Regions from separate parts of the Homo sapiens genome. Here region 2 is linked to region 1. Evidence: fine-mapped expression QTL. Tissue or cell type: whole blood. Region 1 holds a variant in brackets; the other region holds the start of a gene. All regions are shown on one strand. Distances are from middle to middle.

What was found. PIP is the estimated chance that this variant, and not a neighbour inherited with it, causes the effect.
Region 2: it holds the start of GRB10, and the variant in region 1 is fine-mapped to the expression of GRB10 in whole blood (TOPMed, PIP above 0.99).

The regions. Positions count from the first base shown.
Region 1 is chr7:50,643,820-50,648,859 of GRCh38, forward strand. The region is part of intron 7 of GRB10 (growth factor receptor bound protein 10); the gene reads right to left. LOC124901632 (a long non-coding RNA gene) reads left to right here. Exons shown (of 2, transcript XR_007060323.1): 2 at 1-130. Among named protein-coding and RNA genes, the nearest start is that of DDC, 81 kb to the left of the region's middle. The variant G/A (reference allele first, on the strand shown) is at 2,379.
Region 2 is chr7:50,780,358-50,785,397 of GRCh38, forward strand. It overlaps GRB10 (growth factor receptor bound protein 10), which reads right to left and starts at 2,539. Exons shown (of 19, transcript NM_001350814.2): 1 at 2,067-2,539; 2 at 270-379.

The DNA.
Region 1 (5,040 bases):
TGACTTAAAATGTGGCAGAGATATTAACAATTGGGGAATCAGGGTAAAGAATATATGAGAGTTCTTTGCTCTATTACTGCAACTTCTCTATACATTTGAAATTTTTTCAAAATAAAAGTTTAAAGAAACATACGTGCGTGAAAATAATGACCTGCGGCTCTCCTCTCTTCACTCAGCATCTCAGTAGTATCTTTTCCCATAGTAACGATCACCCCAGAACATGAGGTTACATAGTGGAAAGCATGGGGGCCCTTGTTTCAGGGCTATCTTCACCAGGAGCATCTCTGTTTCTTTTCCATTCAGCAGTTGTCTTCACTATCCCGGATATTTATGTCCAAAACACTCAGCCAGTGTGGCTCAATCACAGACTAGGAGCTCAATGGGTTCAACAAAATATCCCAGGTGTCCAGGTGGGGTTCCTTGAGTCCAGGCCCTGGAACTGGGTCCCTATAGGTGTGTGTTCACCTGCCCAGTGAGGTCCCACAAGCTGACCATCACAGGGTCCCCTAGTCCATGCCCGAGCTCTTTATTTGGTGGCTATGTGATGGCCGAGCTCAGGGACACAGATAGGGAAGGGACGTAGCACCCGCTTCCACTGCCTTCTTCCTCCCTCTTGTATTGGAAGCCCAAAAGCAGCCCCCCAGCAACCTGAAACGCATGCAGTATCATCAGTCTACTTTTATGGTAATGTACTGTCTTTATCAGGACAACTTCTCCTTCATGTCTTATTTCAAACCCTGTCACTGACTGATGGGCATTCCGTTTCAGAAAAACTCTCACCTGAGACCATCAGTAAGCAGGACAGGTCTAACTGTGATTTCCTGAGTAGGGAACCTCAGGTAAGCTCTGTAAGGCCTGCTGTGAAAGCGGTACCCTGGATCACAGCACCGAACTAGCAAGAGCGGGACATCAGCCTCTACACAGCCCACTGGGCCACCACCCACTGGCCAGTGGAGCAGGGCTGTCCTGTCTGCTAAGGCCCCATGACCAAGAAGGTGTGGGCAGATGCTAGACAGACAGAACAATGACAGACAGGTGGAAGGGGCTGGGTATGGGATGGGCGGACCAGTTGGTGAAGGAAGACTGGCAGATTCACAAACGGTGAAGTCTGAGAAGCTGAGAGACACAGCAGGCACAGGATGGCTAAAACACTGCAAAAGGGCTATAATCCCCAGTACCATCTCCAGTCTGGACGACGCAGAAAATGACAGCCATGAGAAAAATTTCATAAATGGAGCTATCATTTAGGGCTATAATTTTATTCAATTACAACATGCCAGAAAATGTATTTGAAGATAAAATTTTCACCCTCAAAATCCCGATTTATCTCCAAAATATATTTGCTATGAATACAGTTGACGCTAATAATCTTTATACTGCCCATAATTCATTTTTTAAAAAGCAAGCTTACATACCATCAAAATGAGATTATATAATCACAAAAATACTGATAACTGGAAAGGCAAAACAGAAACTATGGAGATTTCTTTGAAAAAGCAGAACACACTCACTGGCAGCCCTTGGACTCCCAGCCTGCTACTTTTTCAGTACTAAAAACCACACAACCCATGCAAAAATCACCAGTGACCCACAGCAGCTTTCAGCCATCTGGGGAGTATGTCTGCTGGGCTGGCAGGGAAGAAACATGAGCCAAAAACACTGCCATTTGGGCACTAACTCCTTTAAAACCAAGCAAACAAAAAGGATCTGCTGAGCACCAGCTCAGAAGGTCTAACACCAAGAAGAATAAGTACCTGAAACTGACTGTGCACATCTTACCCCCATCCTCCAATCGCCCGGAGTTCTCAGACTCCAAGAGGTCTCCAGGCAGATCTGAAAGCAAACGCCGTCGTATCAGACCTCTTGGGGTCTGTCCATTTGCTCCCAGACAGGCTCAGTAAACATCGTCTAGAGTTTCTTGAAACTACAGAAACAGCCAATCAAAGTGATAGATTGCCTGGACACAGTCCCCTCACCACCCAGGGAACTGTCACCAGAGCCCCAGTGGTGCGAGGCCCTAGGCAGTGAGAAGAATTGGTCCAAAGCCACATTGCGAGGAACTGCAGAGTCCTAGCCAGTGGCCAGCCCCCAAGTCATATGCCTTCCCATCGTATTATAAGTGACATACAGCCCTTGGCATTATTTATAAAAATGAACTTTCTACACCCACCCACATACTTATAAATACATAAAACTTCTGCTCCAGCAATGACACTGCTGGAAACCAACCTATCCATCTGTCTATCCATCCACAACCCCATTCATGACCAAGGACCCATGCACGAGAATGTTCATTTCAGCTCTATTCATAATTAGAAAAAGCTGCAAACAAAAGTAAGCTTATGTGCCATTAAATGGTATATAAACATCTCAGTAGC[G/A]TCTTTTCCCCTAGCAACGTTCACCCTAGAACGTGAGGTTACACAATGGAAAGCACGGGGGCCCTTGTTTCCGGGAGCTGTTCATCAAAAGAGGGTTGAGGTAAATCTATCACGGTACCTCCATACAACACAACACTATGAAGCTGCAGGGGAAATCACAACAATGCACATCAATTTTGTGAAGAGATACACAAGATACTGTCCGCAGTGTCACCTCTGGAGAATGAGACTAGAGTTGGAAACTGAGAAGAAAGTGAATCTCACCGTTTACCAAATACCTTTTTGTAGTATTTGTTTCACTTTTTGTTTTTTACTATGAATGTTACTTTTATAAATAAAATAGGTTCTCCTTTTTTTGGTCTCCTGGTTGGACATAGAGGTGATATGGTAATAAGTCATGGCAAACTTACTCCTGACTCTGAATCCTGTTTGTAGTGCTAGATTCCGCAAATTGTCACGCCCTGACTGAATGAACCAGCTTCTTTGGAAAGAGATGAGTGGGGGTAGAGTGGGAAAAAGTTTTCACGTGAACTTCTCTGGGGAAAATGCTAGCTTCTAATGCATTCATGTTCCTGGAGGCCTTTTTCTCCAGAAAAGGAAGTAGCTCTTGGACCAATTGGTGTAATGATTCAACAACCAATCCTCCATCTCATCTACTGAGACTTAACCAGCCCTGCTGCTACGGGCACCAATCCCACCTGGTAAGGCCGGTGGGGCCAGATAGGAACCCTGGTGCAGAGCCAGGCTCAAGGCTCCTCCACTCATCCCAGCCACAAAGTCGGCAACCCCAAGCATCCATAAAAGTATCACTAACTAAAAAGAGGCAGAAAGTGTGGAGCATAAGATGAAATGTGCCTATTAATGGAAGAAAGCTCATTTAGGCATGAAGAGTCCAATTCTCTCTTCGGACAGAAATCACAACAGTCTCAGCAAAACAACAAAACAAACTCACTTAGAATCTATCAGTGTCTAAATAGAGACCTTGGTTATATAGATGTGGCATCTAACCTCAGCATTTTATAACTTAAAAAGCAGATCAAAATAGTTAGTGCTCCAGAATTACAAGAGGGATTTCCACCAGTAACATCTTTTTTTGAAAAAAGTTTCTTTGGTGGTAATCAAACTTTAATGAAACATTAAACCTAAAATGTAACCTATAATTTGAAAAAATGTTTTCAGATTTGAGTCAGATTGGCCGAACCTTTTCAAGCCATCTCAGGCCCAGCTACATGGGGAGGGTGCGGATGTGCCCTCACTGTCAGTCACTGAGCAGATGCTCCCTGAGAACCTTCTCCGTGCCAGGCACCAAGGTGCTGGGATTCGGGTCTGGAATAAAACCCCTTGACTTTATGGAACTTCATTCAAGTAGGGGAGATAGACAAAAAGCAAAATTCAGAGATTGTTAGATGGCAGAAGGCAAAGGAAAAACATTCAGCAAAGGGCTGCTGGCTAAGAAGGTCCTCAAAGGCAGCAAAAGATGCCACAGGCCGACTGTGATGCTCCCTCCCAGGCGGCAGAAACTGGGGACCAGCTGAGTCAGGAGGCTCCCATGACGACACAGGCAAGGAAAGTAAAGCCCAGGCCTGGGTCCCACAGCAGAGACCAGGCAGGCGCTGTCCAATTCTGGTACACAGGCTGGGGTGGCGTGAAACTCAAAAGAGGAGTGAGGAAGGGAATTGGGAATTCTGATGGGGGTACTGGTCTGCTGCTCTGAGATGGGAATTTGGAGGTATCATGTTTGGAGGGAAGGATCAGATGCTGACTTTGGACCTGTTGCGTTGGCAGTGTCTTTTAAGCACCCACATGGAGGTGCCATGTTGGCAGCTGGAAACAGGAGTCTGGGCCTTGAGGAAGAGTTTGGATGGGAATGTAAACCGGGGAGTAATCAACATAGGGACAAGATGGAAAGCTGAGGGAATGGCCACGGCTGTCCAGGGAGGGAGCGCAGAGAGGGGAGACGGAGCACCAAGGCCCAGTGACTGAAGAGCCAGCAACGATGGCTGAGAAGGAAAGTCCAGCAAAGAGGGTGGAAACCCAGACGGAGCTGTGGAAAGGAGAGCAGCGAGCGACAGGAGCCCTCATGCTGCTGCAGGCCCGGCAAGCGGAAGACAGAGAACCCCGCTGGCTTTAGCCATGTGGATGCCACCCTGATGGGAACAAGTGGAATTGAATAGCACAGTGGGGACAAAAGCTGGGCTGCTGGAACGTTTTTAAAAAGGTTTAAAAAGGAGCATTAGGAAACCAAGGAAAATGATAATCTTCTGAAAGCAGTAATTTTAACCACTGCCTTAATCTGTGAGGGAAAGGAAGGCAGAGCCTCGACCCAAGGCGGTAAGGAAGACCCATCCTCAGTTTTGCCTTTGGGAATCCTTATCCCAAGTCCTCTGCCAGCCCAAGGATGGCAGAGCATAGGTCCCCCTCCCATAGAACGCCTGGGGACTTTCCAGTTGACCACATCCCTCCTACAGCTACTCCCTCTGGGCTTCCAGAGTTTCCCTTCTTCAGGGCAGTGTGCTGTGAGCCCAGAACACTACTTCTGGAGGTCATCAAGGTCACTGAGACATAACAATGGACTTATTGTTTGAAGTAGTCCCAGGTCCTTTTCTTTGAAGCTTTTGAGAGCAATCTTCTCAGCTCTCCCGCTCCACTAGGAGAGGACAAA
Region 2 (5,040 bases), 140 kb after region 1:
ATGTGCTCCCAGACCTCCTAGGGTCCACAGGACTCATACTGCCTCAAGGCCTCCCCTCATTCTGCCCTTGACCCTTCAGACAGGAGCTGCTAACTTTCTAACTGAATCACCAGAAGCCCCAGTAGTTACAAGGCCCAGAACACCACATCAGTTCTCAGACTTTATACTTGTAAGAATCACCTGGCATGCTTTACAAAGACAAAGAATTCCAGGTCCCAAGCCCAGAAAGTCAGTTTCGTAGCTCAGAGCTGGGGCCTGGGGATACATACCGAGAGGCAGTCAGCTCTGATGTAGGTGGTTCAGAGGTCACACCTTAAAAACCCTGGTCTCTCCTATACATTCTTCCTCCTGAGAATTATCAGAATGCAGCCTCCCAAGTCTGAAAGAAAGGTAAAACCATTCTAGTCCAAGCGAGTTTCCTAAGACATTCTTACTAAGTCACAAGTACATACTCCAAGAAGCTGCCTGGCTTTTGTGGGAACACAAGTGTCAGTGAATTTAGGCTGTGGCCTAAATATGCAAATTTTGGAGCCTAACCTCCAAAATTCGAAAGATGCAGTGTTCTCTCGAAGTTTGGAAGCCTAGTTCTGGGGTGGTAATTACATGATGGCTGGAGGAGCAACTGGTGATGGAAATCCTTAGGAGACACTAAAAATAACTCACATTTTAATCGACCAATCTGGAACTTCTCTCACCCCTTCATGCCAATCGTGCAATTACCATAACTCCATTCACCATGTTCCTCAGCAGTTAGTATGCACCATTCTCAGTCCTACAAGATAGTAACTATTATCCCTGATTCACAGGTCCAGGTACAACGGCAGGTAGCACAAGATGGGGAGGGGACTGAACCACACTGCACTCACACCCCACCCTACAATTAAAAACCGTCCTTCAGCGCGTGGCTGCCGAGCACCTCAAACTGAAACAAGTGTTCTTTACCACCTTTCTCTGGAGTGACAGAGAGAAAGAAAATCCCAGTAAGCCCTTCTGGCCCTGCCCACCACCTCCCCTGTTCCCACCCAGGCCAAAGGGGGAATGCGTGGGCCCTGCTCCCACCCCCGATGCTGACATCAAAGGAGCAGAGACACGCAGGAGACTCCAGGCAGCACCCGAGGCCCTGGCCGCCAGCACGTCATAATCCCTGCAGTCGCTGCCTTTCAGACTTAAAAAGAACAATGAGGAAAGACACCCACGCTTCCCCTCACTGGGCTAGGAAGGAGAGCTTTGCGGGTTTAGACTGCAGTCTCCCCCGCCCATAGCCACCTGTGTGCCGGCTCCGCAGACGAGGTCCCCCCAGCACCCTGGCAGGGACTGTACCATCAACAGACAAATGGCAGCCGACCAAGGAGGCGACTGGCGTGTGGAACAGGTGATCCGATTGTTTTTCTAAAGAGCAAGGGCTAGGACGTCCTACGTGTTCATATGCACAATTTTTTGAACTCCATCAAGAACACGAACCCCATGCCCACATCTTCACTGCTCAATTCACATTGTCTGATATGCACCTTCCAGGGAGAAAGAGGTTTTCATGGAGAAAGAGGCAACGTTGACTATACGTGTTTACTCAAAGCTTTTTTATACCGGACTATATGCCATCCAGGTTTAAGAGAATTCCAGGCAGGCTCTAGCATTATGTTTTTCACAGAAAAAGCCGGTGCAGTAGCCCGGATGCCCAGATCCACTCATTTCCCAAACCGGTTCCCACACCCGCTGCCCACCACCTGGCGAGGAAGGAGCGGGCGAGGTTCGCTCGAATCGTCGTCACGGGTTTCCGTGGGTACAGTTATTACTCGTTACATAATATTAAACAATTAAGATTAAAAATGGTTACATAATACTGTCCTATGGCTGGCGGCAACGAAGCTCGGGATCTCGGACTGCAGCGAGCCCGCGGCAGGCGGGCAGGGGGCCGCGCGGCAAGACCTCCCCGCCTCCCTCCCGGGCCCTGTCCGCCGCGGCCGGGGCCTCTGCAGCCTGCGCAGGCCGATCCGCCCGCCGCCCCGGCTCGCGCCCACCGCCCACCGCCCACCGCCCAGCGCCCGCGGCGGAGCCCACCTGAGTACCTGGAGAGCGGGCGGCAGCACTGGCCGCACGGGGTCGCTGCGTGTGCGCCGCCGGCCCGGGTAGGGCTTCGGGGCCCGGCCCCCGCAGTGCCCGGCGCGTGGACAGCGCTCCGCATGGACAGCGCTCGGAGCCGGGCCGGGCTGGTCCTCCACGGCTCCGCCCCGGCCAGGGGCCTGCGGCGCAGAAAACCGACCCGGGGCCTCGGGGCCACCGCGCGCCAGGCGAACGCGCTAGCACGAAAAGCGGGCCAACGCCGCCTCTGGGGACGCCATCCGGGCGAGGGTGGGATGCCGCGCCACCGCCCGAGCGTGCCCGGGGGCTCCCAGCGCCATCACCACGCAGGTGCCCGGGGGCCCCTCCGCGGAGCCGGCTGCCGCCCGGCTGCAATACTCAGCCTCCGAGGGACTGGGCGCTCCTGAGGAGCGGGAGGACGACGGAGCAGCGCCCGGTCCTGGAGCACAACAGGAATCCCAGGACCAAACCCATGTGACGCGGCCACGCCCCAACGCCCGGCGGGGGCCCTCTGCTGCCCAATCCCCGGATCCCTGGTTCTCATGGCAACCCTGAAGAACCCCTTGTTCCCTCCACTGCCTCCTCTCCTCCCCCACAGCCCCCCCGCCTGATGGGCAAGGACGCGCACACTGGCCACTCTGACGATGCCGAAAGCCCTCCATGTCTACCCGCTACGCCGCATTCGCAGACAGGCGGGGGACATCGCGGCCGCGGCAAGCTAGAGATGCCGCCTGCTCGAGCAACCTTCCACCTGCAGGGCCGGCCAGTTCTACTCTTCCAGGATCACTCTCGTCTCACCCTTCTCCCCAAAATGTCAGAGCAAGAACCAGGAAGGGAGAGGCTCTTTCTGGAAGCCACAGGCATAACGTTACTGAACAACGAGGACAAAGTAGGGTCCCATTTAAACTGAGAGTCAGCGAGGGAAAGAACAGATCCTATACATACCAAGCATCTGCTATGTGCTAGTCACTTCACACACACACACACCCCACACACACCTCACACACACACCACACACATCCCACCCACCCACTCACATACATACACACCACACACATACATACACACCACACACACACATACACCACACACACACATCACACATACTCCCCCACCCCCGCACACACATACACCACAGACATACACACGAGCCTGCAATGATGGAAGCAAAACAGAACGTTTGGAGATATTCACTGCCGTTTACAAGGCCACAGTAAGCAGTAAGCAGATTTTCTACTCCCCTCTAGCAGAGAACATGGTAGGAAAAGCTAGACATTGTAGACAGCAGTAAGAACCTAACAGTCAACAGTGGACAATGGATTCTGAAACTGAGATCCTATACTGCATTCACACACGTTAAGGGGCAGGGCGCTGGGAAAACCCCATCTCAGTCTGGGGTTCAAAGAGTGGAAAAGCTACCCTAGTCCAACTGCTCGGAGGCCAGGTCAGGCCCCTGAAGGTCACTGGAGGAGGAGGCTGGAAAAAGTGCAGATATGCACTCCAAAAGGAGAGGTTCCACGGTGGTCATGACCACAAAATTCCAATATGTTTAAGTCGATCAAACAAAAGCAGAGTTAAGGCTGGTTCTGAAAGCAGCCAAGAGCAGTTTTCAACACAACACAAAGGGTAACACAAGGCTTTCTTTTCTCACAGTCCGGGCTGACCACATATGGCCTGGCTACTGCAAGAAACATTGAAGGTGTTAGCGCTTTTGACTCTAACTGCGCACCCCTCAGAGAAGATGTCACATAGTGAACATCGCAAGGCACAGAATGGGAAATGGAAGCACAGAATCAAACCCTGAGATTCGGGGAGAAACCAAAGTGTGGAGAAATTATGTAACTTATCCAAAGTCCAGAGCAGGTTACTGACTGGGAGAACTTGGCTTTCCTTCCAGACTCCAGATATGAGACTTTTCTGCGGTCTGACACAGTGGCTTCTTCCACCTCTGCAGTCAACCCCACAAAGGTGGCTCGAGTGTTCCTCTGCCTCCCTGCCCAGCAGCTCCCAGCCTGGATGGTGAACTCCTTTGCCTGAACATCCCACGCACCCTGCCATCTCCTGGGCTAGAACAACAGGTTGTGCAGGACAGAGGGCTTCCCTGCCACACTCCCCTCTATTACAAAATGCCAGAGGTCCCAGTTCGAAGCAGCTGTTCCTGGATGTGGGAAGAGCAAGAGAGAAATGATCTAATGATGGACAAGGAATCTTGAAAAGCCAGACCTTCACTGAATGGCTGACAGGACACACATTTTGCTTTACTAGAACAAGAACAGAATCTTTGAAAAGGCATAAAAGCCAGTGGTCAAGAAGTAACTGACAGCAAAGGCAAAAGAGATGAAGGCTAAGCTGGAAAGTGGAGATGAAGCCTGATGATATACTCAGTGGAAGCCCAGAAAGTCTCAGGAATGAGAACTACCATTCACCTCTGGAAATGGGAAACGTAGAGTCCAAAACAAGAAGATTAATCGGAAGTGTCAGGAATAGCTGGGCCCCATTTCATCCCGGGTCCTCTCCCCAGCTCCATCAGCTAGGTGACTTCTTTTCTGGAAGCAGGGACACAGGTCTCTGGACCAGGATCAGCAGACACAGCCATGCCTTTAGTCCCAGAAAGATTTGGTGGATCACATGCTAGCTGCCATATGAATCCCACCACCATCCCCAGCAGCTCCTGGAGCAGCACCTCCAACAGAACTGAAAGAGGCTCCTGCAGAGCTGAGAAGAGACCCAAAAGCATGAGCCCCACAACAAGCAACCAGGCGTCCATCCACAGAGGCCACAGTTAAATGCTCACTCACACAGGGCTCCTGTCAGCTTCTGAGCAATGTCCTTTTGAAAGTGGGAAGACCCCAGACAGCTAAGCGAAGCCTCTAAGGTGAAAGATGTGGCCAAATTGCATGGGACAAACACTTCCTATGCCTCACCTCCCTGGGCCCTGTCCACAGCTCTATTGAGCCGCAT